Linked DNA regions of Homo sapiens: region 1 is linked to region 2. Evidence: fine-mapped expression QTL. A gene starts in region 2. The other region holds a variant in brackets. All regions are shown on one strand. Distances are between the middles of the regions.

Region 1 (15,575 bases), 35 kb after region 2:
TCAAAATGATTCTTTTAAGGTGGCTCAGTAAACTACCAGAGAACACAGAGGGGCAATTCAACAAAATCAGGAAAACAATACACAAATAAAATGAGGAGTTTAACAGAATGATTGAAATTATTTAAAAAAAGGTAACTAGGCAGAAATTCTGGAGCTGAATATAAACTGAACAAAGTGAAAAATGGCAATAGAGAGCATCAGAGCAGAATTGATCAAACAGAAGAAAGAATCTGTGAACTCAAATACAGGTTATTTGAAAATATCCAGTCAGAGAAGGAAAAATAATGAAAAGGAGTGAAGAAAGCCTGTGTGATTTATGGGATATCCTCAACAGAGCTAATGTTCACATTATAGCAATTAAGGAAGTAGAAGAGAGAAGGGGTAGAAAGTATTTTTAAAGAAATAATGATTGAAAACGTCACAAATCTGGGGAGAGATAGTCACATCGGGGTAAAGGAGAGTCAAAGTTCTCCAGTCATTTTCAAACCAAAGACCACACTACAACATATTATAGTCAAACTGTCAAAAATCACAGAGAGACTATTGAAAACAGCAAGAGAAAATCTTCACATACAAGGGAACCCTCAGGAAGTTATCTGCACATTTCTAAGCAGAAACTTAGTAGGCCAGGAAAGTGTGGGATGATATATTCAAAGTGCTGAAAATAAGAAAGAAACCTGCCAACCAAAAAACCAAACCCAGCAAAACTGTCCTTCAGAAAGGGAGAGAGAAGACTTTTCCAGACATACAAAATCTGAGAAAGTTCATCATCACTAGATCTGCCTTACAAGAAATGGTAAAGGGAATTCTTCAGGCTGAAAAGAAAAAGAATGCTAATTAGGAACATGAAAACATATGAAAGTGTAAAACTCACTGGTAATAGTCAATTCAGAATACTCTAATAATGGTGGTGTATAAATCACTTGTTTTTATTATAATTAAAAGACAAAGCTATTAAAATAATAGCTACAATAATTTGTCATAGGATGTACAATATGAAAAGATGTAAATTGTGATATCAAAAGCATAGAATAGGAGGAATAAAAGTATAGAGAGTTTGTATATGAGATTGAAGTTATTATCAGCTTGAAATAGACTCCTAATAACTATGAATTGTTCTTTCTTAAGCCTAATGGTAACCACAAAGCAAAAACCTATAGTAGATATACAAAAGATGAAGAGAAAGGAATCCAGGCATATAATTACAGAAAATCACCAAATCACAAAGGAAGACAGCAAGAGAGGAAGAAAGGAACAAAGGATCTGCATTAAAAACAAAACGAAAACAGAAAACAGTGAACACAAAGGCAATAATAAACCTTTACCTATCAACAATTGCCTCGGATATAAATGGATTAAATTATCCAATTTAAAAACATATATAGTCAGTGAATGGATTTTTTTTAAGACCCAGCTAGCTGTATGTGCCCTGTGAGAGACTCACTTCCAGTATAAGGACACACACAGACTAAAAGTGAAGGAATAAAATATGGTATTCCATGCAAATGGAAACCAAAAGAGAGCAGGGGTAGCTACATGTATATCAGAAAAAAAATGCACTTTAGGCCAAAACATGTAAAAAAAGACAAAAAGGTAAGTATATAATTGATAAAGAGGCCAGTTTATTAAGAGGATACTACATTATAAACATATGTAACCAATATCAGAGAATCTAAATATATAAAGCAAATATTAATAGATGTGAAGGAAAAAATAGACTGCAATACAATAATAGTAGGGGACTTTAATACCCCACTTTCAATAATGGATAAATCATCCAGACAAAATCAAAAGGAAGCATTGGGCTGGAACTATAGTTTAGGCCAAATGGACCTAACAGAGATATATAGAACATTCCATCCAACATTGTAATACACATTGTTTTCAAGTGTAAGGGAACATTCTTCAGGATTGATCATATGTTAGGCCACATGACAAATCTTAACCAAAATGATTGAAATCATATCAAGTATTTTTTCCAGCCAAAATCATATGAAATTAGAAATCAGTAACAGGAGGAATTTTGGAAAATTCACAAATATGTGGAAATCAAGAAAAGCCAATGGATTAATGACTAAATTTAAAGAGAAATTTTAAAATATCTTGAGAGAAATGAAAATGGAAACACAGTTTACAAAACTATGGGGTGCAGCAAAAGGAGTTCTAATAAGGAAATTTTGTAACAATAAACACCTACATTGAAAAAGTCATCTCAAACAACATTATACTTCAAGGAAGCAGAAAAAGAACAAACTAATCCCAAAATTAGTACAAGAAAGGAAATAATGAAGATCAAAGCAGAAGATATTAGAAAAACAATAGAAAAGATTGATGAAACCAAGAGTTGGTTTTTTTGAAAAGATAAGCAGAATTGACAAACCTTAGCTAGATTAAGAAATGAAAAAAGACCCAAATATATAACATCAGAAATGAAAAAGGAGACATTACAGCTGATACCACAGAAATATAATGGATCATAAGAGACTATTATGCAACATCTCTATGCCAACAAATTGGATAACCTAAAAATGTATAAATTCCTAGACACATAGAATCTAACATGAATCATGAAGAAATAGAAAATTGGAACTAACCAATAGCAAGTAAAGAGATTAAAACAGTAATAAAGTCCCCCATCAAAGGAAAGCCCAGCACCTGATGACTTCACTGTACTCAAACTCTTAAAAAAAAAATTGAAGAGGAGGAGGGAATACTTTCAAACTCATTTTATGAGACCAGCATTACTCTGATACCAAAGCCAGAGAAGGACACTATAAGAAAAAAAAAAAAAAAGATTATAGGCCAATGTCCTTTGTCACTATCCTTGCCAAAATACTAACAAACTGAATTAACTACACATTAAAAGGATCATTCACCACAGTCAAGTGGAATTTATCCCTGGGATGCAAGGATGGTTCCACATATACAAATCAATAAGTAGGATACACCACATTAACAGAATGAAGGACAAAAAACATTCTTAATACATTTGCAGAAGAAGGATTTGACAGAATTCAGACTCTCAACAGATTAGGTATCGAAGGAATGTACCTCTACCAATAAAGGCCATATATGATAAGCTCACAGTTAACATCCAATTTAGTGGCAAAAACTTGATACCTTTTCCTCGACCATTTCATCTGCTTGGGCTATTGTAAGAAAATACCTTAGACTCAGTAACTTATTAACAACAGAAATTATTTTACAGTCTGGAGGCTGGGAAGTCCAAGGCCAAGTTGTCAGCGGATTCAGTGTTAGGTGAGGGCTTGTTCTTTCCTTCATGTTGGCATCTTCTACCTCTGTTCTCACATGGTAGATAGGGAGAACAAGCTTCCTCAGGCCTCTTTTATAAGAGTATTAATCTCATGATAAAGGTGGAGCCTAATCACCTAATCATCTCCAAAGGCTCACCCTCTTAAGGCCATCACATTGGGAATTAGGTTTTAACATATGAATTTTGAGGACACAGTGTTCAGATGATACCACCTACTCTGACCAATCTATTCAACATATACTGGAATTGCTAGCCAGGTTCATTAGGCATAAAAATAAATAAATAAAAGAGAAAAAGGAAAGAAAAGAAAAAAGAAAAAGAGAAAGGGAGAGAAAGAAAAGAAAGAAAACAGAGAGGAGTGGGGAAGGGAAGGGAGGAAGGAAGGAGGGAGTGAGGGGAAGAGAGGAAAGAAAAGAAATTTTAAAAAAGTATCCAAATCAGGGAAAGAAGTTAAATTTTCTTTGCTGATGACATCTTAGAGATAAGAAAAGTGTAAAGACCCCATCAAAACAATGTTAGAAATAAATTAATTAGCGTTTCAGGATATAAAATCAATCTACAAAGATCTGTATTATTTCTATACACTAATATTAAGCTGTCCAAAAGAAAACCATCCTACTTAAAATGCTAACATACTTAGGAATAAATTTAACCATGGTGGTGAAAGATATGTACACCAACAACTAAACATGAATGAAAAAATGGAAAAAGAAACAAATGGAAAAACATCCTGTGTTCACGGATTGGAAGAGTTGTTAAAATGTCCATACAACCCAAAGCAATCTACAAATTCCATATCATTGTTATCAAAATTCCACTGGCATTTTCCATAGAAATGGGAAAAAATTCAAAAATTTATGTAAAACCAAGCAAGACCCCATGAGCCAAAGCAATCTTGAGCAAAAAGAACAAAGCTGGAGGCACCACATTACCTGACTTCAAAATACATTGAGAAAACTATAATAGTCAAAACAGCATGCCACTGGAATTAAAAACACACATATGCCTATGAAACAGAATAGAGAGCCTAGAAATAAATCCATGCATTTATGGCCAATTATTCTTTAATAAAGATGCCACGGGCACACAATGAGGAAGGGATAGTCTTTTCAACAGTGTTGGGAAAATGGGTTATCTACATATCAAAGGATGAAATTGGACCCTTATCTTACTCCTTATTCCCACATCAACTTAAGGTGATTAAAGACTTCAACATAAGACCTGAATAAAACAGAAAAAGCTTCTCGACATTGATGTTGGCAAATATTTTTTGGATATGCACTCCAAAGCACAGGTAACAAAAGCAAAAATAGACAAATGAAATTGCATCAAACTAAAAAGGTTTGACACAGCAAAAGAAACAGCAGAGTGAAGAGACAACCTATGAAATGGGAGAAAATATTTGCAAACTATACGTCTGAAAAGGGAGGATTTCCAAAGTACATATGGAAGTTAAATTACTCAATAGTAAGAAAACAAATAACCTGATTAAAAAATGGGCAAAGTGGCCAAGGAGGTGTAGCCCGGTGGATCGCTTGAGCTCAGGAATTTGAGACCAGCTTGGGTAACATGTCAAAACCTTGTCTTTACAAAAAAATACAAAAGTTAGCCAGGCATGGTGGTGTGCACCTGCAGTTCCAGCCACTCAGGAGACTGAGATGGGAAGATCACTCGAGCCCAGGAGGTTGAGGTTGCAGTGAGCCAAGATTGCGCCTCTGCACTCCAGCCTTGGTGACAGAAAGAGACCCTGTCTCAAAAAAAAAAAAAAAAAGGAAATGGGCAAAGGACCTGAATAGACAATTTCTTTTTCCAAAGAAGATATACAAATGGCCAACACATAGATGAGAAAGTGCTCAACATCACTAATCATCAGGGAAATACCAATTAAAACTATAATGAGATACCGTCTCACACCTGTTAAAATGGCTATTACAAGAAAAAGAATAACAAATGTTGGAGAGGATACAGATAAAAGGAAACTCTTGTACACTGTGGGAATGTAAACAAGCACAGATATTACAGAAAATAGTAAGGAGGTTTCTCTGGAAATTTAAAATAGAATTACCATATGACCCAATAATCCTACTTCTGGGTATATGTCAAAAGGAAATTAAATCAGTATGTTGAGTTGATACCTGCACTCTCATGTTGATACTCATTTACAGTGGCCAAAGTATGCAATCAAACTGACCATTGACAGATGAATGGATAAGGAAAATGTAGTGTGTGTAGGTATGGATGTCAGTTAGGAGGAATAAGTTCTGGAGATGGTCAGCATAGTGACTGTAGTTAATAATAACATACCGTGTTGAGTCCCTGACTTATGATGGCTCAACTTACAATTTTTCAACTTTAAGGTGAGTTTATTGAGACATAATTGAATGCATTTCTTTTTGTTTTGTTTTGTTTTGTTTTGAGATGGAGTCTTGCTTTGTTGCCCAGGCTGGAGTGCAGTGGTGCGATCTTGGCTCCCTGCAACCTCTACCTCCCAGGTTCGAGCAATCCTCCTGCCTCAGCCTCCCCAGTAGCTGGGATTACAGACACCTGCCACCACACCTGGCTATTTTTTGTATTTTTAGTAGAGGCGGGGTTTCGCCATGTTGTCCAGGCTGGTCTTGAACTCCTGACCTTAGGTGATCCATCTGCCTCAGCCTCCCAAAGTGATGGGAATACAGGTGTGAGCCACTGCACCTGGCCAATTCAATGCATTTCGACTTATGATATTTTCAATGTTGTTACCATAAAAAATGTTAAATGTTCCCACCATAGAAAAAGTATATGAGATGATGGATATGTTAATTAGCATGGTTTAATCTTATACAATGTGTACATATAGGACAGCATTGTGTTAATATATAAATATGTACACCATAAATATGTAATATTTTTGTCATTTGAATCTTAATAAAGCTAAAAAAGATTTTTAAAAAGCGTAAGTCCCAATGTTAAGCTTCCTTAGACAAATCTAAACACTGCAAATATTATTTCTAAAAGTTTTTTTTATAGAATTGATATCATTAACTTTTTTTAACACTGCCATCTTTTATTTTAGATTTACAGGGTATGTATGCAGGCTTGTTACATGTGTATATTCCATGATACTGAAGTTTGGGGTCTGATTGATCCCATTGTCCAGGTAGTGAGCATAATATACAATAGTTAGCTTTTCAACCCTTACCCACCCCCTTCCTCTCCCCTCCATTAGTCCCCAGTGTCTATCGTTGCCATCTTTATGTCTATGTTTACCCAATATTTAGCCCCCACTTATAAGTGAGAACATGCAGTATTTGGTTTTCTGTTTCTGTGATTAGCACTGTTTTTAAAAATAAAATAAATTTTCATAGTTGTAAAAAAAAAATCACAGCTCATGAAAATTTGTACTTTCGATGTAACATGCTTCTTGGATTCCAAAATGCACATTTTTATCACATTTTAATGTTTCTAATAGATGTACCTTATATAGATATGTACAATTTTTTTTTTGAGTCAGAGTCTTGCTCTGTTGCCCAGGGTGGAGTGCAGTGGCACAATGATGGCTCATTGCAGCCTCAACCTCCTGGGCTCAAGTGATTTTCTTAACTCAGCCTCCCAAGTATCTGGGACTACAGGTATGCACCACCATGCCTGGCTAATTTTTCTGTTTTTTGTAGAGACAGGTTTTTGCTGTGCTGCTTAGTCTGGTCTCAAACTCCTCAGCTCAAATGATCTGCCTGCCTCGGCCTACCAAAGTGCTGGTATTACAGGCATGAGCCACTGTGCCTGGCCAGATGTATAGAATTAATATTATATTATTTTCCCACCCCAGGGAATTATGTTATGAAATTGATTGTATTTAAATTTTATGGCATCTTTAGCACTGAGGAAATGCAATATTTCAAATTTATGCATGTAAGCATCAGGATCATTTAAAATAATATGTTGCATAATATATTTAAGATTGTCAGAAATATTTTTCATTTAATGTCTAGTAATATTTTAAAAATGTATGTAATTCATTCTGTTACAGCATTTTAAAATGTAAATTTGTGACGTATTTGGCATTTAGGGGAATGATGTCAATATAATGTAGATTTTTACACACTTTGTGTGTGTATCCACAATGTGGGTTGTTTCCAGATTACTTCAAACTTGTTAGCATTTTGAAATGATCAAGGTCAAGCTTTTCTCAACTAAAGAGGAATTCTTAGCAGTAGCTGAAGATCTAAACAAAATGCTAAAAGTCCTATAGAAATATCCTCCTGTAGCTCAGTAAGTTGCTGGTTTATTGGCTATACATTTTTCTGTGTTGACTAAGCTTTAAAGATATTTTGCTTGTGTTAAAAAGAAATTGACTAATGAAAAATGCTGTCTCTAGAAGATATTTTTAATTTTTATTAAACTGGTTTCTATTAGAACTAATGTCTTCAAGGATGCACATCAAAAAAAGAAGAGACCCAGGATATGAAGCTTTAAATGTGGACTGCTTTATTTTAGGTACAAATGCCAGTGGAAACTTTCCATTTTTATAATAATCATTATTGTTTTGTTAGGGCTCAGATTTAAAAGTTCCTTAGGTATTGTGTGGTCTGGCACTATCTTCACAATAAGTCTAACTATTTTTATTTTGCAGAACATGAGGTTATACAGAAGTGCATATATTGTGTTAGAGCAGGAATGCCTGTACTTGATTCTGGCTTAGTGGTAGTCATTTTTTTGATTAATAAAGGTAGTTTTAATTTTTATCCTATTTCTTTTCAGGGCCCATTATAGTGTTTCGCAGGCCCATTACTAACTCATTTGTGTGCATTAGGAAAAGATTTTCCTTCCACTGAGCAGATGTAGGTTTGTAATTGCAGGGTTTGGAGTACAGAACTCTTGCTGGATTTTACTTGCATCTTCATCCAGGCCCGTGTACAGTTCAGTTTGAAAACATTACATGGTTGCCTGGCTTCCTGAACAAAAGTGAGACATGCACACACATACACACAATGCTTATTGAACAGTGAAATTGTTTCTTTAGCAAATAAATGTTTTGATTAGTTTAACATTTATTTACAGTATTTCCCTTTTAAAAATATGTCCTTATTTGTCAATGTTTGATGTTACACAAAGATTTTACAAACATATTTAAGACTATTTTACAGGCTATAACTTTGAAAATTCTTTCCATACAAGAGAAGAGGCGTGGTAGCGATAGAATGCATAAATATTTCCCAATCTCTCCTTTTTTTTCTTTTTTTTCTTTGAGGGGTGGGAGGATAGATAATAAGAGAAGAAGACTAAATTTGCCCATCCCATATATGAATTATTTTTAATTAATACTGAAATTTTCAGTTTAGGCAGTTGACACTAGGTTCTGCCAGAGTTCTAGGCAGAATTGCATAAGATCTCAAGATGTGTTTACTCCATTTATTCTTCCTTTTTGGAACCCTTTTTAAGTTCCAACCTCAGATAGTCCTTGGACATCCTAAACTGCACTTTTTAATGTGGTTTATCTTCATGCCAGAATTTCTAGAGGTCACAACTGTATATTTATTTTTTTGTTTTTGTTTGTTGTTTACTTCATGAATGTGTGCATATATGTGTCTATATTGTGTGTGTACAACTTGATGATAGAGTATGTAAGTTATTAACTTGTATGTCAGTAAGGCTCATCTTAAAGACAATGAACATTTTAAATGAGAACTTGTTAGCCCAAATGATCCTAATAGCATGAAATATTTTCGAGGGAGGA[A/G]TATGTTATTTAAGGTATATGTTAAGCTTTTATAACAAGGAGAAGTCAACATAAATATATAGAATTTATTTTTCTCTCATTTAACGGTCAAGAATTAGATATGCTTTACAGGGTTTAGCAGAGACCTTTTAGCTTTGCTGTTCCTTAGGATGCTGCCCTTGCCTGCATTGTTGAGAGTCACTGGTACTTCATTTCATTTCCATATTCAGTCATTTTTAATGATAAACCCAATCATTTATAATGGCCAGACCTAGAAGTTGTGCACATAATTTTGGCTCACGTTTTATTTTCAAGGACTTTGTTGTATAGTCAGACCTAACTGCAAGTAAGGCTGGGAAATAAGGTCTCTAAGCTGAGCTGCTGAGGGCTCAGCTGAAACCCAAGGAGCTCTATTATCCAAAAAGTATAGGAGGATGGATATTAGGGGAAAACAAGAAGTCTATTCAGTTTGCCTCTTTGGCTACCCAAATGTCCATGTACCTCTTTCTCATTCATAAAACATACCATCTTCTCAAGGATGATAACCCAAAGTCACATTCATTGGGTAAAGTCCTCTATATCGGGTTTCTGTGTGGTTCATCATGATGTGGTGACCAATAAACTAAGAGACAAGTTTCCTAATTTTCTTGACCTCTTGCTTCTTGTATGATGGTATAAAGGACAAGGAAAATTCCCAATGGGAAAAAAAAGAATGGGCCATATATGATAGTTCCTGTTCCTTACAATAATAGACTTCTTGCTCTGGCAGTGGAGTAAGGTCTTGCTAGGACCTTAATTTTGCTTTCTGAGATAAGCTCCCTTGTCATTTGTCCTTCATAGTCCCTGACCTTGCTCTTTGGGAATTACTCTTGGTCTATGATTCTTTGTGACTGTATCTAACATGGGTGTTAGTGTACTCTTATTGGAGACACCACTGCATTCTCACCCTGCTTTCTATTGGTGCAGATTTGGCTCCCAGGGATAGTCTTTGTTAGGCTTATGGTAGTATTTCCTAGTCGAGTTCCCTCCGAAATGTAGGTTTCCATTCTCTTTTTCTTCCTGTCAGTTATATGTGAAAATACCACAGCCAAAGATCTCATTTTGTCATAGTTGTTAAGCCTATGCACTTATTAATTTACTAGTTATTTTCCTCAGACTATCCACCTCTCCCTCAATTTGATAACTGCCTTAGTGTAGTGGCTACTCTACACATGCTCTAACAAAGCTTTAAAGTAAGCTGAAATTTATGAAGTTGAACAGCAAGTAATATAATAACCTGTCAGAACAGAATTCATCACTCTTTAAGGAAGACCACAAAATCCACACATTAACAACATAATCATAGTACCCTTAAAATATGTATTTATATAAAACCTACTAGACATGTGTGTATGTATGTGCACATGTGTGTATTCAACTATTAGGCATGCAAAGAAGCGGAGAAAAATTATTAATGGAAACTGATGTGGAAATGATAATGATCATGAAAGTAGTTGGCAAAGAGCTTAAAATATCTATTGTAAATATGCTCAAGGACTTAAAAGGAAAATGTGAACATAATGAAAGAAATTGAACATATAAAGAACCATTGAACGTTCAGAAGCTAAAAATATCTGAAATGTAAAACGACTTCAGCTAACAAGGGAATAGTCATTCAGAAGAAGTGGTTAATAAATAAAAATCACTGCTAACTTCTCACTAGAAGGTATGTAAGCCAGAAAAATGGAATGATATATTTAAAGTGCTGAAAGGTGGGGAAAAAAAGTCAGTCTAAAATTCTCTGCCCAGTGAAACATTTTAAAAAACAGAGACAAAATGACATTTCCAGATAAGCAAAAATAGAGAGAAGTTGTCAGTATACACGCACTAAAGAAATTTTAAAAGATGATCTTCAGGCTGAAGGAAAATCATACTGGGTAAAAACAGATTTACATAAAGGAAAAAAGAAATGTTAAGAAATGGTAAATATGTGGGTCTGAAATATGTAGAAATTAAATCACACATTTCCAAATAACTCGTGGATGAAGAAGTCACAAGAGAAACTATAAAATGTTTTGAACTGAATAATATTAGAAACATGACATATCAGAATTTGAGGGATGCAGCTACTAAATTACTGAAGCAATGCTGTATGGCTATACATGTTTGTATTAGGAAAGGAGAATAGTGTAGTCTGTGGTCTAAGTCTCCTACTTAAAAAGCAATAAAAATAATACTAAATTAAACCCAAAGCAAATAGAAGGAAAAGGTGATGATAAAGAGTGGATATTCACAGAATATAAAACATGAAAACAATGGAGAGAATTATAAACTTCTAGCAAGATTATTTAGAAGAATACTAATAGCAGGAAGAAGGAAAAATATCACTATAGATGTTCTGGCATTGTGGAATAATTGGGGGATACAAACCATTCTCTGTATTCCCAGGTTCTGTATCTGTGTATCAACTAACTATAAATGGAAATAGCCAAGAAAAATATAAAATAATGCAATAATAAAAAATATGAATTAAAAAGAGTATAATAACTTTGTATTATGTATTATAAGCAATATTTACATTGTATTAGATATTATAAGCAATCTAGAAATTAAAGTATACAATGGAGTGTATGTAGCTTATATGCACATGTACATCATTTTATATAAGGGACTTGACCATTTCCGCAGATTTTGGTATCCTCAGGGGGTCCTGGAACCAATCCTTATACTAAGGGATGACTGTATTATGAACAAGTACATGTCAATAAATTCAACAATTTAAGCTAAATAGGCTAATCGCTTAAAAGACACAAATGACCAAACTGACACAATGAGAAATAGAAAACCTGAAAAACCTTACGTTAAAAAGAAAAATTAATAATTATAAACTTTCCCACATAGAAAACTTGTGGCTCAGATGGCTTCACTGATTAATTTCATTGAAACTCAAGGAATAAACCATTCCAGTCCTACATAAATTCCTTCAGAAAATCAAGGAGGAGAGAAGACTTCTCGTTTTATGAGGGTAGCATTAGCTTGATTCCAAAACCAAATATGACAAGAGAACAGCAGATCCATATCTTCTTTGACTATAGATGCAAAGAAAAATCCTAAATGAAATAACAAATAGGGTCTAGCAAACAGTAAAAATTCATCATGACCAAATGAGTTCATACCAGGAGGTCAAAACAAAGATGTAAGTTTGTGATGTTGACAGTTAGTACCAAGAGAAATTGCATTCAAAACCACTTAAGTTTAAACAGCTTGTACTCATTTCTTTTAGCAAAAGTTAAGTGGTGGCTGCAAGCAAGCAAGGATGGGAATTGAAGTCATAATGCTACCTTTCTGGGGAATGAGTGATCTCTGTCACTGTCCAGGTGGTCTCCACTCACCAATGTCTTTGATCTTTACTAGAGATAGGGAACCCACATTATGGTCAGCATGTGGTGGTCTGTGATCAGTTTTGCACACTCTAGAAAGATTCAGGGAGTCAGTGGCAGACCAGGCTTATATGCTAACTGGGGAGTTGGGACACTCTGAGTATGCTGGTGCATTAGTTATATGCTATTTGGTTACACTGTAAGTTATGTAAACCATTAACATTGATTATATAAGTTGTTTACATAAAATGTTTGACTTTGGGGTATAACATGTTGATCTTGTTTGAGCAAGTTAGCCATATATTTATCTGTAACATCTTAATTATTAACAATCTTATTTTTTTTAGAAAAACATGTTTTCTAGGAAGCAAACATTTTTGTTTACCACTTATAAGCATAGCAAACATGTTTTATTCACTCCTGTTAAAATGTAGGATAAGTTACCCTCTACAGAAAATTTATTTCAGGCCGGGCTTTCTGGCTTATGCCTGTAATCCCAGCACTTTGGGAGGCCGAGGCGGGTAGATCACTTGAGGAAAGGAGTTGAAGCCCAGCTTAGCCAACGTAGTGAAACCCCGTGTCTACTAAAAATACAATTAACTGGGTGTGGTGGTACATGCCTGTAATCCCAGCTACTCAGGAGGCTGAGGGACAAGAATCCGTTGAACCTGGGAGGTGGAGGTTGCAATGAGGAGAGATCGCACCGCTGCACTCCAGCCTGGACGACACAGCAAAACTAAAAAAAAAAAAAAAGAAAATTTATTTCATATATCACAAAGCGTCCGATGCGATTTGGTTTACTTAAATTTAATCTGGTATTGCTATTTTTCTATATTAGTATAATTTAGTCTAGTATATGAACATCATAACAATGATTTTTGTAATCCTAACTTGAGTATCAGAATATCTTTACCAGAAGTACAATAATATGAGTTCTATGGCATTTTTTTCTGTTATATTTCATTATTCACTAATCATCAATATTATAGCCAAACCAAATTGCATATTATAGGGGAATTTTCCAACTGGAGCAAAACTTAAAGAATGTTTAAGATCATCTTTGATTGCCCTAAGCTCACTTCTATGCCATACTTCTGCAAGTCCTATCAACTTTAAAATGAACCTTGAATCCATTCTTTTATCTACATATCTTTGTCTCCCCTCTCCTTCCCAGTCAAAGCCATTTTTATATTCAGTGTTTTAGTCAGAATAGGCTATATTTAGAGTTACAAATTAGCATCCTAATCTCAATGGTTTCACACAGCAGAGGTGTACTGCGGCTTACATAAAGTCCAGTGTGATCTGGGCTATTCTCCTCCTCCATCTTGTAGCTATACTCTCTGCACTACTGGTTTTGAAGATCCTCAGGTGAACTGGAAATGACAATGTCACTTTTGCTTACAGCGCATTTGCTCAGAACTAGTCAAATGGCTCCAACATAAATGCATAAGCCTGGGAAGTGTAGGGCGGTACGTGAAATATTTAGAGATCACAATGATCTGTACTACACCCAGATTATTACAGATAACATCTTAGTTGTTTTCCTGACTTTTTTTTCATTTCCTACTGCAGTGCTTTCTCCACCTAGTAGCCAAAGTTCTTGAAAAAAAAAAAAAAATTGTTACCACCTTGCCAGTAGTTTCCACTTTGTTTTAAAATCCAAACATTTTATCCTCACCTGTGTAAAATGCTACGCGCTAGCATGCTTGCCTTCTCTGATTTTGTGATTGGCATTTAGTGTTGCTAACTGTTAACTATGAATAGTATATTTTGAATAGGTATTTTATTTTGTCCACAGTTAGGAAAATGTGATTTTTAAGTGTCAAATTTATGAAACCACAGTAATGACTATAAACAATAAATAATAATACCAAGAGAAATCCTAAATCATATGGTGTCTTTAATCACATTGTATGCAGTTAGAATCCTTAAAAACAGTGGCCTTTCAGAAACATTGATATAATGTAAAATCCTGTTATAATGAATAAATTCTATATAGCAAAGCCATAATAATTGTGTTCTGTTTATCTGACAGCAAATGATCTCTTAGAATAAATATTTTCTCTGTTTAAAGATTATTTGAAAGATATTCCATTATGGTCCAGTGCATTTTAAAAAATTAATAAACTATTTTTTAGAGCAGTTTTAGGTTCACAGCAAAACTGAATGGAAAGTACAAAGAGTTCCCACATATCCCCTGTTCCTACATGCTACAAATGCATAACCTTTCCCAGTGTTAATATCCCACAACAGAGTGGTGTATTTGTTACAATTGATGAACCTACATTAACACGTCATTGTCACCCAGAGATCATCATTTACATTAGGGTTCACTCTTGGCGTTCTACAGTCAGCGGGTTTTGACAATAAATGAATTTTTAGATAAGTTTTTTATAAAGTTTACATGTTGTCATTAAGTCATTGTTGTCCTACAGTTATATCTTCAGTTTCTGTCAGTTTTTTTTTTTTTTTGCAATCTGCATCTCCTAATTAAATATCACACACATATACCACCCGTAATCCCCAATAATTTTTCTCTAGCTGTAGTGCTCTTGCCAAATGACAAGAGGTACTAGGAGGAGCTAGGAATCAACCCTTATTTTTAAATATGCATGAAAGAAAGGCTTTATGTAAATTCTTTGTGATCTGTAGGTTGTGAATCCTAGGAATCAGGTTTTTAAGGAACAGTTTATCTTAAATATTTTAAGGTCTATATATTTGGTATGCTTATTTGAAATGTAGCAGAGCATTTATATTTTTTATAATTTTTGATAGCTTTTAAAAAATGATTTAAATAATTAGCTAATAACGATGCCTATTTTAACAAATAAAAATTACTTATAGTAAAATCGAATATGCTACAGTTTATTACATGGATTTAGATTTAGCACCATTCAAATGGATTGTCTGGTACTTGACATCTACTTACGTATAAAAGTTTTATGTAACAGTTTTTACATGGTGTTTGCATTGTCATTCATGTTTCCTTTTCTTTGCTGGTTTATCTCTGTTTAAGACCTTCTGCACTGATAAAGAATTGAATAGCAGAGGAATTATCCTACTACAGGGTATGTAATATTTAATGAAAACAGGTATTTGTGGGGTGGAAAGGTAGGAAAATTATATCTTTTTCTTTGATAAGAAGTCAATCTGCCATTCTCTCTTCCTGTAATTACATGTTGTAGAAAGGAAATTTGCTTTTATGATGGGAGTTAAGGAAGTTATTAAGCAGTGTTTGTGAAACTTGATT
Region 2 (15,575 bases):
GGGAATTCACAATGTGCTTCTTAATCTTTCATTTGGTTTTCATTTCTTAAACAGCTTATCTTTATGTTTTGCTTGTGTGGCTTTGATTGTTGTCTCCTAGGGAGGGAACTTATCTGTATCTCATGCAGTGCTGAGTGCTCAAGAAATGATAAATAATAATAATGCTTAAAAGAACAGGCTGGACCAACACAGCAAGAAAGAAACATTGTGTAAATATAAATGAGAGTTTAAAAGCCTGAGTAATTTTGTTTTTTGGCTAAGAGTTTTAGGATCATGATTGCTTTAAAATTACTCTTGCCCTTTGTTTCTTTGATGGTGTCATTGAAAACTGTTTTGATTTGCTATTTTAAAATCTAACTCTTCAAATTTTTACTAATCTAGTAATTCTAGTAGCTTATTACTCAAAGTATAAGATTTCTAGCAGAATTTTTCTCATGTCAGTATTATTTTTGGCACACACAGCATTTATTTATTTGGAGTCATTGGAAAGATTTGACACTGAGATTGAAACCAACTGTAGGTCTATGTCTGCTGCTTTACAATAAATGAGGAAAAGAAATTCTACTATAATTTTTAAAATGTCATTTTTAAGAAAAAACTTATGGAAAACTTCAAACTTACTAAAAAATAGAGTACAATATAATGAACCTCCAGCTTCAACATTTGCCAATCTCCTCCACTTTTTTCCTCACATATTATAGGGCAAATCCCAGATTTAATGCTACTTCACAAACACAAATGTATTTCAGAATATGTATCTAACTGGTGAAGATATTTTTACATGGCCACAAGGTTATTATCATACTTTAAAAAACCTAAATTTAATATATAAGTCCAAGTTCACATTACATTTTCCTTGACTGCATCAAAAATGCCTTTTATAGTTAGTTTATTCAAATAAGGATCTGAACAAGGTCCACAAATTGTATTTGGTCTCTCTCTCTCTGTCTCTCTCCTTTTTTAAATAGCAGTCCTCCCTTTTCTCTTTTTCCTTTCTCTTTATAAATTTCATTTTAAAAGTTAACATATAGCATATTTTCCCTTTTTTGGTATTCATACGTAACAGTAAAATTGCCTTTTTTGGTTCTGAGAGTTTTAGCATTTATAGATTGATGTGATCACCACCACAGTTAGGATATACAGAACAGTCTTATCACCCCCAAAAAACTCCCTCAACAGTCTTTTCACCTCAAAAAATTCTGCCCTTTATAGTCACACCCTCTCCACACCTATTACTATAGTATGTTATCTTTCGAGAATAATTTCTTTCTCTTAGCAAAATATATTTATGATCCATCCATGTTGCATGAGTCAATAGCTTCTTCCTTTTTTGGTGCTAACTGTAGGCATGTACCACAGTTTATTCATTCACCTGTTTACAGACACGTTGGTTAAGATTAAATCTTAATATCTTGTTAAGGTTAAATATCCTGGAGAGGACTTGTTGTGTCACATGGTAAGTGTGTGTTTAAACTTATAAGAAACTGCCAAACTGTTTTTCCAAAGTGCCTGTACCACTTTGCTGACCAACCAGCAATGTAAGAGTTCCAGTTACTTTGAATCTTCTCCAGCACTTTGTTTTTTTAATTTTTGCCATTCTAATAGGTATGTAGTAGCATGTCACCATGGTTTTAATTTGAATTTCCTTTATGTCTAATCATGCAGAACAATATATCATGTGCTTACTTGCCTTTCACATATTACCTTTCTTTTGCCCATTTTTTAATTGTGTTGTTTGTTTTCTTTATGGTGAGTTTTGAAAATTCTTTATATATTCTGGATACTGTCAAGTACAAGGCAAAGCTAGGCTAACAGATTCAGCTGCAAAAAAACAAGACCTTTTTAGACTCAGTTTATTGCTTACATAGAGAGTAAAAAGAAGAGTAGCTAAAGGATCCAGCTCTTCGTTACCTTTGTATAGGGAGACAGTGAAACAAAAGAAGCCACATGACCACAACAAGAATGATAGGATTCCCTGTTGCTGAGGAGCCCATTTCCATGATACTGCTAAGCAGTTTTTTTTAATAGCTGCATTTGTGCCTTAAGGGTAGCAAGACAGGAAGCCTTGTACCTCATCAGAAACCATGAGATAATGACAAAGGGTCTTTGGCAGCCTCCTTGGTATACAGGGAAGCCAGTAAGCAATGGCATGTAGCACTACCTCACAAGCCCCCATGCTTTCCTATTCCAGGAGGATCACAAAGCATTCTGCCAAGATTCAGCTGCCATTCAAGCCTTGCTTATGTGGCCTATGCAAGGTTGTCAGCCGCTGCAGAGCTGTTCCGCTATAGATACAAGTCCATTGTTAGATATGTGGTTTGCAAATATTTTCTCACTGTAGCTAGTTCATTCTTTTAACAGTTGATTTCTCAGAACAAAAGTTTTTTAATTTTGACGAATTTCAGTTTACCACTTTTTTATTTTGTGGGTCATGCATTTGGTGTCATGTCTAAGAACTCTTTACCCAAACCCAAATCATAAGGTTTTCTATGTTTTCTTCTAAGAAGGTTATATTTTATATTGTTCATTTAGATCTATATTCCCTTTAGTAATTTTTTTATAAAGCATGAAGTTTCATGTTAAGGCTTACTTTTTTTGCATCTAAATATCTAACTGTTCCAACACTACTTATTGAAAAGAGTATCTTTTCAGACTGGATAAAGAAAATGTGGTACATATACACCATGGAATACTATGCAGCCATATAAAAGATGAGATGTCCATTGCATGTCCATTGGAGGGACATGGATGGAGCTGGAGGCCATTATCCTTAGCTAACTCAGGAACAGAAAACCAAATACCGCATGTTCTCACTTATAAGTGGGAGCTAAATGATGAGAAAACATGAATACATAGAGGGGAACAACACACACTGGGGCCTTTTGGAGGATGGAGGGTGGGAGGAGGGAGAGGATCAGGAAAAACAACTAATGGATACTAGGCTTAATACCTGGCTGATGAAACAATCTGGACACAAACCCCCATGACACAAGTTTACCTATGTAACATACCTGCATTTGTACCCCTGAACTTAAAATGTTTAAAAAGAAGAAGAAATAAAACTTTTTCAGGGCAAATTTGTAAAAATAGCAAAAGAAATAAAGGGCATCCACATTGGAAAGGAAGAAGTCCACCAAAAAAACTACTAAAACTGATAAATTCAGTAAGTTGCAGGATACAAAATCAACATACAAAAATCAGTAGCATTTCTATATGCCAACAGCATACAATCTAGAGAAGAAATCAAGAAAGTAAAACCATTTACAATAGCTACAAGTAAAATAAAAGATTAACTTATCCACCTGATGAAGTTGTAGAATTGTTGAGAGGGACTCAGGAAAGTCACCTTAAAGGCTCTGTTTGCTTTCCCGCTCTTCTTTCTTCCTGCTGCCTGGGAAATGGATAGTTATGATTGGGGTTCCACCAGCCATCTGGGACCATGAGATTGCTTTGAAAATGGAAGCCAGGGCTGAGAATGGAGAAGATAAAATAATAGAAAGGAGCCTGGGTCTCTGGTGACTTTGTGGAGCTGTTATAACAGTTCTGGAATAATTAATCTGTAGACTAATTTTACTGCATTTTATTGATTCTTAAGATGCACTATTTATGTATCATTAAAAAAACACTGCCAATCAAACTCATACAATACTTTCTTATTGCATGAACTGTGAAGTTATTCTGATCTCTGAAATGTTAAAGTGTGGAAAAAAGGTGTCTTAGAATCAATAAAATATGTTAAAGGATTAACCCTTCTGTTTTAAAGCTATCATTATTTTGAGTTTTCTCATACATTATACACAACCTATTTTCCTAGTTTTTAATTTTAGACTGAGAACTTCTTGAGGTTTCTTAGTCCACTTTCATTAGGGAGTTCCCATTTTAAGTATATTTTGATGAGTTTTGACAAATGCATGCACCCATTTGACTTCCACCATGGTCAAGATATAGAACTTTTTTGTCACCCTTTAATCCCATCCCAGTCAATTCTCCCCACCCCAACCCTAAGAAACCACTGATCTGTTTTCTGTCATTATTGGTTAGATTTGTCTTTCTCTAGAGCTTTATATAAATGGAATCATCCAATATTTATGATTCTGTGTCTGGCTTCTTTCACTCAGCATACTGTTTGAGACTCATCCTTGTTGTTTTATATATCAGTAGTTTCTTCTTTTTATTTCTGAGTGGTATTCTATTATACCACTATAATAGAATACAAAGAAAAATGTACCATAATTTCTTTACCCTTTCATTTTTTTTTTTTTTTTTGAGATGGAGTTTTGCTCTTGCTGCCCAGGCTGGAGTGCAATGGCATGATCTCCACTCACTGCAACCTCTGCCCCCTGGGTTCAAGTGATTATCGTGCCTCAGCCTCCCAAGTAGCTGGGATTACAGGCATGTGCCATCATGCCCGGGTAATTCTGTATTTTTAGTAGAGATGGGGTTTCACCATGTTGGTCAGGCTGATCTGGAAATCCTGACTTCAGGTGATCTGCCCGCCTCGGCCTCCCAAAGTGTTGGGATTACAGGCGTGAGCCACCGTGCCCAGCTCTTTATCCTTTCAAAGGTGATGGATCTTAGGGCTGTTTCCAGTTTGAGGCTGTTGTGAATAAAAGTGCCATGGATATTCATATACACAGGGAATCATTTTGTTCCCCTGTAGTCATGGGCCAGTTCTGTTCTCTGTTATACTTAGCCCTGGTTCGAAGATTCTTATAGGTCTTGCTACCTACCTCTACCTTTTGTCTGCTTGTTTATAGATACTGGTTAGTTAAAGCTAAATCTGTCCTGAGTAGGGATTATCATGTTTAGCCGTTCTGCTTCTATTTCCCTCTCTAAACCTGATCATAAAAGAAGAATTAAATATACTGGAATATAACAGTGGGGGACAGTTTCTCAGGGCATAGAAATGTGGAGAAATAAATAGGACAACCTCGAATAGAGTAGGGTAGGGTAGGGTAGGGTAGGGTGGGGTGGGGTGGGGTGGGGTGGCGTGGCATGGCGTGGCGTGGCATGGCGTGGAATGGAATGGAATAGAATAGAATAGAATAGAATAGAATAGAATAGAATAGAATAGAATAGAATAGGATAGGATAGAATAGAATAGAATAGGATAGAATAGAATAGAATAGAATAGGCTTTCTATTCTGTGAGAGGTAGTGAGGAAAGAACTCTGGCTTTGGACCCAGTCAGGTCTGTCTTCGAAATGGGCCATTTATTAGCATAAGAATCTAGGTACATTAATCTCACTGAGCTTCATATTTTTTTCACCTGGAAAATGAATATAACATTCACTTTCTGGGATGTGAAAATTAATTTATCCAGACATTAAATATGCATTGAGAATCCACATGTGTCAGGCCCTGTCCTAGGCTCTAGGGATACAGCAATGAGCGAACCAGCAAAAGTGCCTGACTTCATGGAGCTTATGGTCTAATTTAGGGCGATAGACTACAAAAGTAAAAAAATCAAAATCTATGTTACATTACATGCTGATAAGTGCAATGGAGAAAAACAAAGTAACAAAGGGGGATAGAAAAGCCCCTTCTTGGCTGTGAGTTGCTTGAAATTAAAGATTGATCTTTCTCCTTTATCTCTAGCATTTATCACAGTGTCAGCTATACTAAGTGTTGCATGAATGTTTCTTGAGTGAAAGGAATGACTGAATAAAAACCAGTGTTGAAGAGAGAAGTTTATCTCATGAAATCATTGTAATACTGCTTACCTGGACATTTTTTAAAGCTTCCAGATAGGTAATTATTATGTCAGCAAGAATGGTGCCCTTTACTTCTCCTTGTTCTTGCTGGATTTTAAAGTGTTCTATTCTTACCACTGTTATATTTTTTCTTGGAAATCAGAATGCTTTTAATGTACCTTCTAAATGATATGTCCTTGATTTTAAAAAAACATTAACTACATGCACTTTTCAGGCTGTTGCTGAGTAATATAGAAAATAATTTGACAAATGATTCAGTATATCAATTTTTGTAATAAGGAGAACTGATATTCTATAGTGTCTGGAAAACTCGCATGTATATGCTACAAATAATAAAATCATGCTTTAGAACAATATTCAGTGTCAAGGGATAGTGTGCTTAACATGTAGCTAAATGGGATAAAAAACCAGTATGCACAGTGTCATACATATAAAATACAACAGACTTTGCATATGATTGTGGTTTTCTTCTTTGTGCTTTCCTATATATTTTATATCAAACCTGTATTATTTTGTTAATCATCTCCCCACATTCCTATTAAACCGAATATAAAATAGGGAAAATGTACATGTATGATAGCTTGATAGATTGAAATATTTATTTAAGGTCTGTAACATTTAGCAGGCGGCAGGGCTGACTAGAAGATAAAAGAATTAATCTGGAGCGGCCGGGTGTTGTGGCTCACGCCTGTAATCCCAGCATTTTGGGAGGCCGAGGCGGGCAGATCACCAGGTCAGGAGATCTAGACCATCCTGGCTAACATAGTGAAACTCCGTCTCTACTAAAAATACAAAAAAAAAAAAAAAAAATTAGCCGGTCTTGGTGGCGGGCGCCTGTAGTCCCAGCTACTCGGGAGGCTGAGGCAGGAGAATGGCATGAACCCGGGAGGCGGAGCTTGCAGTGAGGCGAGATCGCACCACTGCACTCCAGCCTGGGAGACAGTGTGAGACTCCGTCTCAAAAAAAAAAAAAAAATTAATCTAGAGTATTGGAAACAGCCTACCTCCCACGGCTATGTGATGAACAAATTACATAATATATGTAGAAATGCTGTATGAATCACTATTTGTGTAGTTACAAAGCTTAATCCCTTTGTCATCCTCTATAAACTCCATGAGGACAGGGAATTTGTTTACTAATATATCTTCATTAGCCATCACAAAACATGTGTTCAATAAACATTTGGCAAATATATAAATATTTTGTTTGGTAGCAAAAAATTATTTCACAGGAGAAAACTACCATTAAATGATTTGATGTCTCTACAGTTCCTTCAGGTTAAAATCTGAATTCCTGTCATTCAAGATTTACTCAATCTAGTTGACAATGTACTTTTCTGCCCCCCAAATATTCACACAACATCTCCTCAAACCACCCAAGGACACTATCTCCTGAACTATTGATGCCTTCCTCCTCTCTCTTAAGTCTTTTAAACGTCCAACTCAAATCCAGAATCTTCCTTTGATCTATCTTAACACATGCTTATTAGATGTCTCAAACTGCTAATTAAAAAAACAAAACTTTAAAAAATACTTTATTCATTTTTGCATTTCTGTCCCCAGGGACTAGGACAGTCCTTTGAATATGGTAAATATCCAATAAATACTTACTGATTTAATTATTTTTCACAACACATCATTAGCTTACAATTTTTATTACAATGAAAGTAAATCAATTTCCTAAAATTCTTCCCTTGCCCCATATCGAGGTGCAATTATTCAGTAATTAAAAAAATATAGCTCCAATAAATGCAGCTGGTCATAAAAATTATTTCAGTAATATCACAATCTACTAGAAGAACCAGGAACGAGTAGCTAATTTTCCAATTCCAGTTATCTATGTTACGGATTACGCTTTGTTATGACTGCAATTCCTTGGATTTCTCCCCTCTTCCGCCCCCGGGATCTTATCCAATTGATAAGGTTAAAATAATGGCTATTATCCTTCTGGCTTAAAAAGCCTAGTGCTCTTCGTTCCTTAAATCATTTCATGTGTAAATTCGGTGCTTAGGAAAGACTGTGATACAACATCTAAGAAGCTACATTTAGAGTTCAGTTTTAAAAAAATCGAGTTCTTGGCTGGGGAAGTGCCCAGGTGCAGGTTTGTTTTGTGGTGAGCGGTTCGCGGGGCCAGGTGCAAGACGCTCAGAAGTGTTTTTGGGTGTCGCTGGCCAACTATCTCCACATAAACTCCGTTTGTTTATTTGACAGCGTTACTGCAGAGGGGAGTTAGGTCCAGCGCCACTCAAACCAGATTTGTAGAGACTTAAAACTGCTTTGTCTGTTTTTTTTTTTTTAATCATAAAACCACCCAGTTGGATCCAAGGCAAATTTGTCACCTACTTCAGGGCCCCTCTGAGGGTCAGAAAGAATTATGAGCGCATTTGAACGCACGGCCCAAATAAAAGCAAACGCACGGAGACTTGCGGACTTGACAATTGTGAGAAATCTCTTAAAACTCGCCTGTGGAGCGGCGGGCGAAAGCCGCGGACGCCAGCAGTAGTCGAGGCCCCGGCGCGGACGGCAGGGAATGAAGTCGCCTGACTTTTCCTCAGGGTTTTGTTTTTCTGTCACGGAGGTACAAAAATAGCAAAGCAGGGGTGGGAAGTCTCCTGGCCGTGTTTTTTTTTTTCCCCCTCGCCAGGGATGGCACTGGGAAAGAGAAGGGAGGAAGCAGGAGCTGCACGGAACCCGTCCCGAGGGAGCCGAGGTAAACCCTGCACCAGAGTTAAGGGAGTCGTGCTCCTGCCACTTCCAGAACACTCCGAGCCGCTTCTGCAGGCCCCGCCCCCTGCCGGGGTTTCCCCGCCACCCGCTTCATTTGCATGGCGCTGCCCCTCCCCCGTTGCCATTGGCTAGCGCCGGGCCCCGCCCACTGCTCCCAGACCGCGGCAGGGTTCCGTCCCCCCGAGCCGCACGGAGCTGCGGGCAGCGGGCGGACTGTTAAACCGCGGCGGCGGCGGCGGCGGCGGCGGCGGCGGCGGCGGCGGCGGCGGCCGGGGCGGGAGCGGGGCGCGCTCTGGAGACGAGTCAGCGGCGCCCCGGGTGGGGGAGGCGGGCGGGCAGCTAGAGATCACCTCAGCAGCCCCCACCACGGCCGGACCGAAGGTGCGGCGGCGGAGGGGAGCCAGGGCGCCCCAGCAGGCGAGTGGCCGGCGTCTCAGCGGCGGGATGACGGGGGTGGGTCTTCCCTCTTGGGGACGGCGGCAGCGCGGGGAGGGGAGAAGACTGCCGGGTGGACTTGCGGGTCAGGCGACCGACCGGCAGCCCCTTCGCCCCCCGAATCCTCTGGGCTGCTGGACTCTGGTCTCGGCACGGGATCGCGCTCTAGGGCGGGGGTCTGACCGCAGCCAAATTTAAACGGCTAAACCTAACAGCCTTGGCAGCTGGGGAGGGAAGGGGTCTAGGGAGGGGTGGGGGCGGACCTGGACGCCGGTCACGTGGGGGGTGGGGCTTGGCAGACCTCCCTTTTGTTTTGGCTGGCGCGTGCGCAGAAGGCAGAACACGTGGTTTCCTGGACCCGCCTCTTGCCTCATCGGCTGAGCCTCACCCATTGGGGGTGTGGTGACGGCTCTTTTGAGGCGGCTCTGAGGCGGAGCCCACTGGATTTGATGAGACCCCTATTTTATTTATTTCACACTTTCTTTCAGGAAAACGTAGATTTGGGCTTTAGAGTTAGATGGGATAGAGCAGAATCTAGGGGATTTTTGAGGGACGGTGCTTCCAAGTTTGTGTCACCGGTGTGCTGAGGAAGGGACCGGTCTTGCTGGAAAAAGTCAGATTGCGTGGTGTTTGGTAGCAAGAAATACCAGGCGGTATCCTGGCCGTTTCAGAAACCACAGGAAAGGAAAGAGGCTGGCTTTGCAGTCGGGAGGGCAGGCACTGGATGGACGTTCTTGTAATGTTTTCTTACTCTGGGAGAGTCCGTTTTTGTTTGTTTTTTTGTTTGAACTGTGGTAAGCACATTCCGTTTTTGATTCCCCAAACTTCAGGACATTCATGTTCTGGCGAGGTTTAGGAGACAAACTTCCTTCGTCTTTAGCCAGTTTGCTTAACTTCATCTGAGTTTGGGTCAGTAATAATTTTAAATATTGCTGGATGGGGCAGGTTTGTTAGCCACAAAACCTAAGTGAAGTGAGCACTGCAGACAAAACTGGCAATTTCTGACTAGGAAAAAATGACTCTAAAAATAATTCAGTATTGAGAAAGAGGCTTAACAGTGAGTGGTCTCTGCCTTTCCCGTTCTTAATAACTAGCCATTTCTTTGGGTTAGTCACCTCTCTGATGTCAAACTTGTTTCGTTTTTGTAAAGTTTCATAATATGGTCTCTGTCTTAAGAGATTGTAAGAAAGAAGAAATGCCTTGTATTAGGAAAAGTGATTCCTAATCTCTACCAATTGCCAAGTAGTGTTATTTTTATAACAAAAGTGAATTTTTTAAAAGCCCACATGTTGGGGAAATATAAACAATGAATTAATCATGAAATAGAATATATTTGAGTATCTTTAAAATCTGTTGTAACCATTATCTTTGGTTCTCCCTCAGTTTCCACCTACTTAGATCAGTGTCAGCGTCTGCAACCATTTCCTCATGGTTTTAATCTACATAGATTATTCTCTCCCGCAAACTGTCTGGAGTAATTTTTTATGTGAAACTTCTTAATCCAGGCCAATTCTCTCACATTGACTTTTAACATTTACATTTTAATTTTGTTTCATGATGCGCCTTTGCAAATAACAATCGATTATTTTGTTAAATCTTATTATTATAAAGTAATTGGAAAATAGATGAGTGCAAATAAGAAAACTATAAATATTTTGTACTTTAAATATTTCTGTCTGCATATATGTGTATTTTTCCTAAAACTGAGACCACATGGTATTTTCATTTAACTCAGACATTCGCATATCATTATTCTTTGAAAAATATTTTTAATAGCTGCTTAACATTTCGCCATGTAACTATCATATTTTAAATTTTTTCTGTTGGCACGTATGTGGGATGTTTCTGGTTTTGCTAGTGTATATTTCACTACAGACAATATCCTTTTACATAAACCTTTGAAATTTCCCCCCCTTAGATTTGTAGAAGAGGAATTACTGGGCCAAAGAGTCTGTTTTTGTTGTTTGTTTGTGTGTGTGTTTTTTAAGGCTCTTATGTCATCACCAAATTACAGAATGTTGTATTGATTTACAGTGATCTAGTGGTATGTGTGTGCCTCCCATTATGTCTTTGTTTATCACCTAGTATTAGGCTTTAAAACTAAAAACCTTGCTTTAATTTGCATTTTAAATTTTTTCACTCTAATCTGTGATGTATCTTTTATTTTTTAACTTATTGTAAAGTGCTTGAGAGAAAGAAATATATTTCATGTTTGACATGCTGCAGATCACTTAGTGGGTGCTCAATAAATACTTGCCAGTGGGCTAATATTTATCTTTTTTATCTATGGAAGATCAGGAAATTGTCTTTTGCTTTTTGTTTTACTCAGTTTACTAGTACATTGTTAGTAATATACTATTATTGTTGGATTCATAACTTTTACTACTTTTTCATTCAGGTGAGGCCTCAGTGATCTGATCACAGTTGTCTACCAGAAGGTCAATTAACTTCTCATAGCCCAACTGCTGCATTATCCAAGAACTTCATCCAATTTTGATGCCATTTATCATGATACCTTAGATTATTTCATTTCCTTTACTCATTCATCTGTCTTCTATGAAATTAACGTAAAGGTTTCACTGATCAATGTAGTTTCACTTGTAGCTTTTACTGTGTTTGACAAAAAATGATGCCTGCTATCTGAAGTTCCTTTATTATTGAGATGGTTCTTGGTAGCTCACTTCTTATTGCCTATAGGATCCTTTATGCCCTTTAATCTACCACATAAATCTTATAAATAATATGTAATCCTTGTTTTCATGATGTTTTTCATGTATTCAGATAATCTCTCCATACCCTTATTTTGTCTATATAGTATTAGATGGTAGTTGAAGGAGGCAGAGAGCTGCTTTCTTCAGGTATAGAATTATGCTTAGGGTTGTTTACTGATTGGGTTCATCAAGATACAAACAGAAAGGAATGGGGCTGCTTGCAGCAGGAGTGACATTTATTGGACAATTAGCAACTAATTTACTAATTTTAAAGCATATCTCTCATATCGCTATCCTTAAAGCTGATACTGCATTATAGTACTTTAATGGAATAATTTACATCATGATGACCCTGAATCATAAATACAATCTTACATTACTTTTAGTATGTTCCATTTAGAAAGGCAAGGAAGATATATAATTTCCAAGAGATTTCTACCTTTCTTTTTCTTTTAAATGTTGTTTTATGGGGACTTTTCACTGAATTGTACTCCTTATTCCCTAATCATGTGGGATAAACACCCAGCAAATGTTAATAAAAACGGTACTATTAAACTTGCCAGTAGATAGTCTATAATAAAAATCCAAAGACTATTCATAATGGAAATTTTAAATACTTGATGTTATTTTTAGGTTCTTAGAAACATTTCTGTATGGACGTGAAAATTCATTAATAATATTGAGACTTTGTTAATATTCTAAAAATATTTATGAACTTTTTGTTTATTTTATATAATATTGAGGCTTTGTTTCCAGTCCAAGACAATTCTCAAGTGTGTTGTTTTTATTTAAACAAATTTTTATTCAGCAGTAGGTCATTAATCAGTGTTTATTCATGTGAAGTTAAATTGAAGCTAAAGTATATAGACTGAGCAAATGTGATAGTGTACTTCTACATGTAGATTTTTGGATCCAAATCGATATACACAGAAAAAAATGACTATGAGTCATGCACTTACAAGTGAAAAGTAATAATTCTGCTTGAAGTATGATCTGTTTGATGTGTTATGTAGCCACCCAAGTGGCTTTATCTTTAATTAAATTCCTTTAGTCTTCAAAGAGAATTCCTTTTTAGGCATAGTTTTCAAAGTGGAAGAAGTTCTTGCTTATAAAACATCATTGAATATAAAGTACTGAGCTGACTGAATCCTAGTTATGCCAGTTATTGCAGTGTTTACTGCAGTAAATTGAGAATTCCTGTAAAGTGGCATGAAGAAATCTTGAAAACAACACTGTATTTTGTATTCCTACTTTCCATTAATTCCTGTATTTTTGAGGAATAAAACTGTACCAGTGTGAGCTCATTCTTTTTTTGTTTGTTTAATTGGACTTTTCCCTGCTACAATTCAGTAACTTTGAATCCTCATATATTTTTTATTTATTTATTTTTAAATTTTTGTAGAGACAGTGTCTCTCTGTCACCCAGGCTGAAATGCAGTGGCACGACTGTACTCCTCTAGTCTCCTTATAGTCTAGAGATAATGTTTAAAAACTTCTCATATTTTGCTAAAAGAATTTGTCTTTTTTCTACTCTTTCTTTCTGTAATTGGCCTAGGTTAGCTATATGAAACATTTAGGTCACAAGTGTGGAAATAATTTATTATTTGACCCTACTTCAGGGTTCTCCCCTCTCTCAAAATACTGTTGGTAGTCTTTTCACTTTATTTAAGCATCAAGTATAAATCTGCTGTCTTTCTGATAATGTTTTCCTAGTTTGTTTCTTTGCTCTGCATTTAAGAGAGCTGGGATTATCCAGATTCCAGTTAAAAGAATAAATTTAATGTTCAGGGGCAGATTTGGATAGGATATTTTCCATGGCATATATGGAATATATGTATGCATTCTAGAATATAAATCAGAATCTGGAGCAGTATTTTAGGGGATAGGAATTCAGATTTGGCCTTTAATCTTTAATGCACATTCTCAGGAGGAAGAGTGGTTCTTATATAGATTATCAGTTTCAACTCTGAGCGTTGAGATTAGATTAGCAAATTTTTTATTTTTCTTTAGAAAGTTTGTCAAAAATTTTTTGAAATATGTGACCTATGTATTAATTTGTAAAGGTCTGATTATTAACTGTCTGGACCAACTCAGTAACTATTGACTTGGTAATTATCTCACTGTGTACATGCACCTTTTGAGGATGATGGCTTTTACTGTATTTCATGATGTCCAAGGGATCAGATTGCATTTAATTAATGCTAAATTCATAAATATGTATGGTTTAGAAATCTTAAAAAATATAGATTAAACTCCTAATGGAAAGTCTGGAGACAACAGGGCAAGACCTTTTATTTGTAGTACAGTAGTCCATCTTTATTTTTGGGGTATATGTTTCAGATCCCCAGTGGTACCTGAAATCGCAGACAGTACTTAACCCTATATATACTTTATTTTTTTCTAACCATACATACATATGATCAAGTTGAATTTATGAATTAGGCATAGTAAAAGATTAGCAACAACAGTAGTAGAACAGTTATAACTATACATAAAAGTTATGTGAATGTGCTCTTCTTGCTCGCTCTCAAAATATCTTACCTTACTGTACTCACCTGTTTTTGGACTGCAGTTGACCACAGGTTACTCGAACCATGGAAGTGAAACAGCTGATAAGGGGAGACTACTGTTACACAATTTCAGAACAACTAATAGTAACTCATGCTTTCCTTAACTCACAATGAACGTTCTTTGGATTAAATTGTAGACCCAAAATTAGAATTTATGGTATAGATTTAACTTTACAGTCTACCTATTGTTTTTATCAGATTAACTTAATTTTATTTATAATAATTTCAGAGCAACTAATAGCAACTAATGCCTTAATTCACAGTGATTGTTCTTTGGATTAAATTGTAGTCTAAAAATTAGAATTTATGGTGTAGATTTAACTTTACAATCCCCCCTTGTTTTTATTAGATTAATTTTATTTATAACAAATTTAATATAACCAAAAACAAAAAAATTGATTCTTTCTAGTTTTAAAAAATGTTTATTATTTAAAAACATAAGCTTTGTCTTGTCTTACTGAAATTCTCTCTGGTGTTTTTTAATAAGACTTCTTAAAAAAACCGGAGATACACTGAGTTTGGAATTGCTTACTGGAGGATTATTTACTTGATAGACTATCTGTAACAGTTTTATAACAGACTGGTTTTTGTTTTGTTTTGCCATCCATAACATTTCTGGGCTGCTGATGTGCTAAGGAATTTTTTTTGTTTTTTGTTTTTTGGTTTTTTTTTTAGTAAAATTGGAATGTAAGTTGAAAATTCTGTTGTAAAAACGTAAAAGTATGCCAGTGCTTTGGTGGGCAGATCACGAGGTCAGGAGTTCGAGACCAGCCTGGCCAACATGGTGAAACCCCATCTCTACTAAAGATACAAAAAATTAGCTGGGCATGGTGGCATGCATCTGTAATCCCAGCTACTTGGGAGGCTGGGGCAGGAGAATCGCTTGAACCCAGGAAGCGGAAGTTGCAGTGAGCTGAGATTGTGCCATTGCACTCCAGCCTAGGTGGCGGGGCGAGACTCCATCTCAAAACAAAAAAAAACAAAAAAAAAAAAACAGAAAAAATAAAAGTAAAATTTATACCCAAGAAACATAGTTGGTTTTTGGATTATCTAGAACTGTTACCTATTGACAGAATCAAGATTATGTATCTAGTTGCTTTCTTTGAAAGAGGACTGATATATTTTCATAACTTAGTTTTGCTTCTTAAATTCTGTAAGTTTGATATTTTCATTTCTGTGTGTTGTGACAAAAAGTTTAATTCTTTTTTCCAGTTTTCTTCCTTCTAGGTTCTTCGAAGTTCTGCATCATTAGACTAAATTCTTTTAGAAAAGGGACCTCTTGTTCCTAAGTATCTTGGGTGTATATGAAAGAAATAATCATCAAAGATGATGGTGGTGCCTAGAGTAATATAATAAAGTATTTTAGTAGTTGTAAAGACATTTCTTAGATTTAGCAAGGATCCAAATACTCCTGCCCAAT

Which allele goes with the higher level. Alleles are on the strand shown, and positions count from the first base shown. SD is a standard deviation of normalised expression in the study named.
As copies of A replace G in region 1, the expression in pituitary of the gene that starts at base 8,596 in region 2 goes down (moderate effect, 0.74 SD a copy in GTEx).

Evidence for each region. PIP is the estimated chance that this variant, and not a neighbour inherited with it, causes the effect.
Region 1: its variant is the best candidate, but not a certain one, in a credible set for the expression of KANSL1L in pituitary (GTEx, PIP 0.60).

The regions. Positions count from the first base shown.
Region 1 is chr2:210,129,213-210,144,787 of GRCh38, reverse strand. All of the region lies in intron 2 of KANSL1L (KAT8 regulatory NSL complex subunit 1 like), which reads left to right. It overlaps LOC107985977 (a long non-coding RNA gene), which reads left to right and starts at 4,620. Exons shown (of 2, transcript XR_001739866.3): 1 at 4,620-6,410; 2 at 7,667-14,332. The variant A/G (reference allele first, on the strand shown) is at 8,988.
Region 2 is chr2:210,164,430-210,180,004 of GRCh38, reverse strand. KANSL1L (KAT8 regulatory NSL complex subunit 1 like) reads left to right here and starts at 8,596. Exons shown (of 15, transcript NM_152519.4): 1 at 8,596-8,856. RefSeq lists enhancers at 1,617-2,116, 7,667-8,300, 8,301-8,936, 9,330-9,509, 8,937-9,571 and 1 more and silencers at 8,380-8,709, 8,830-9,139.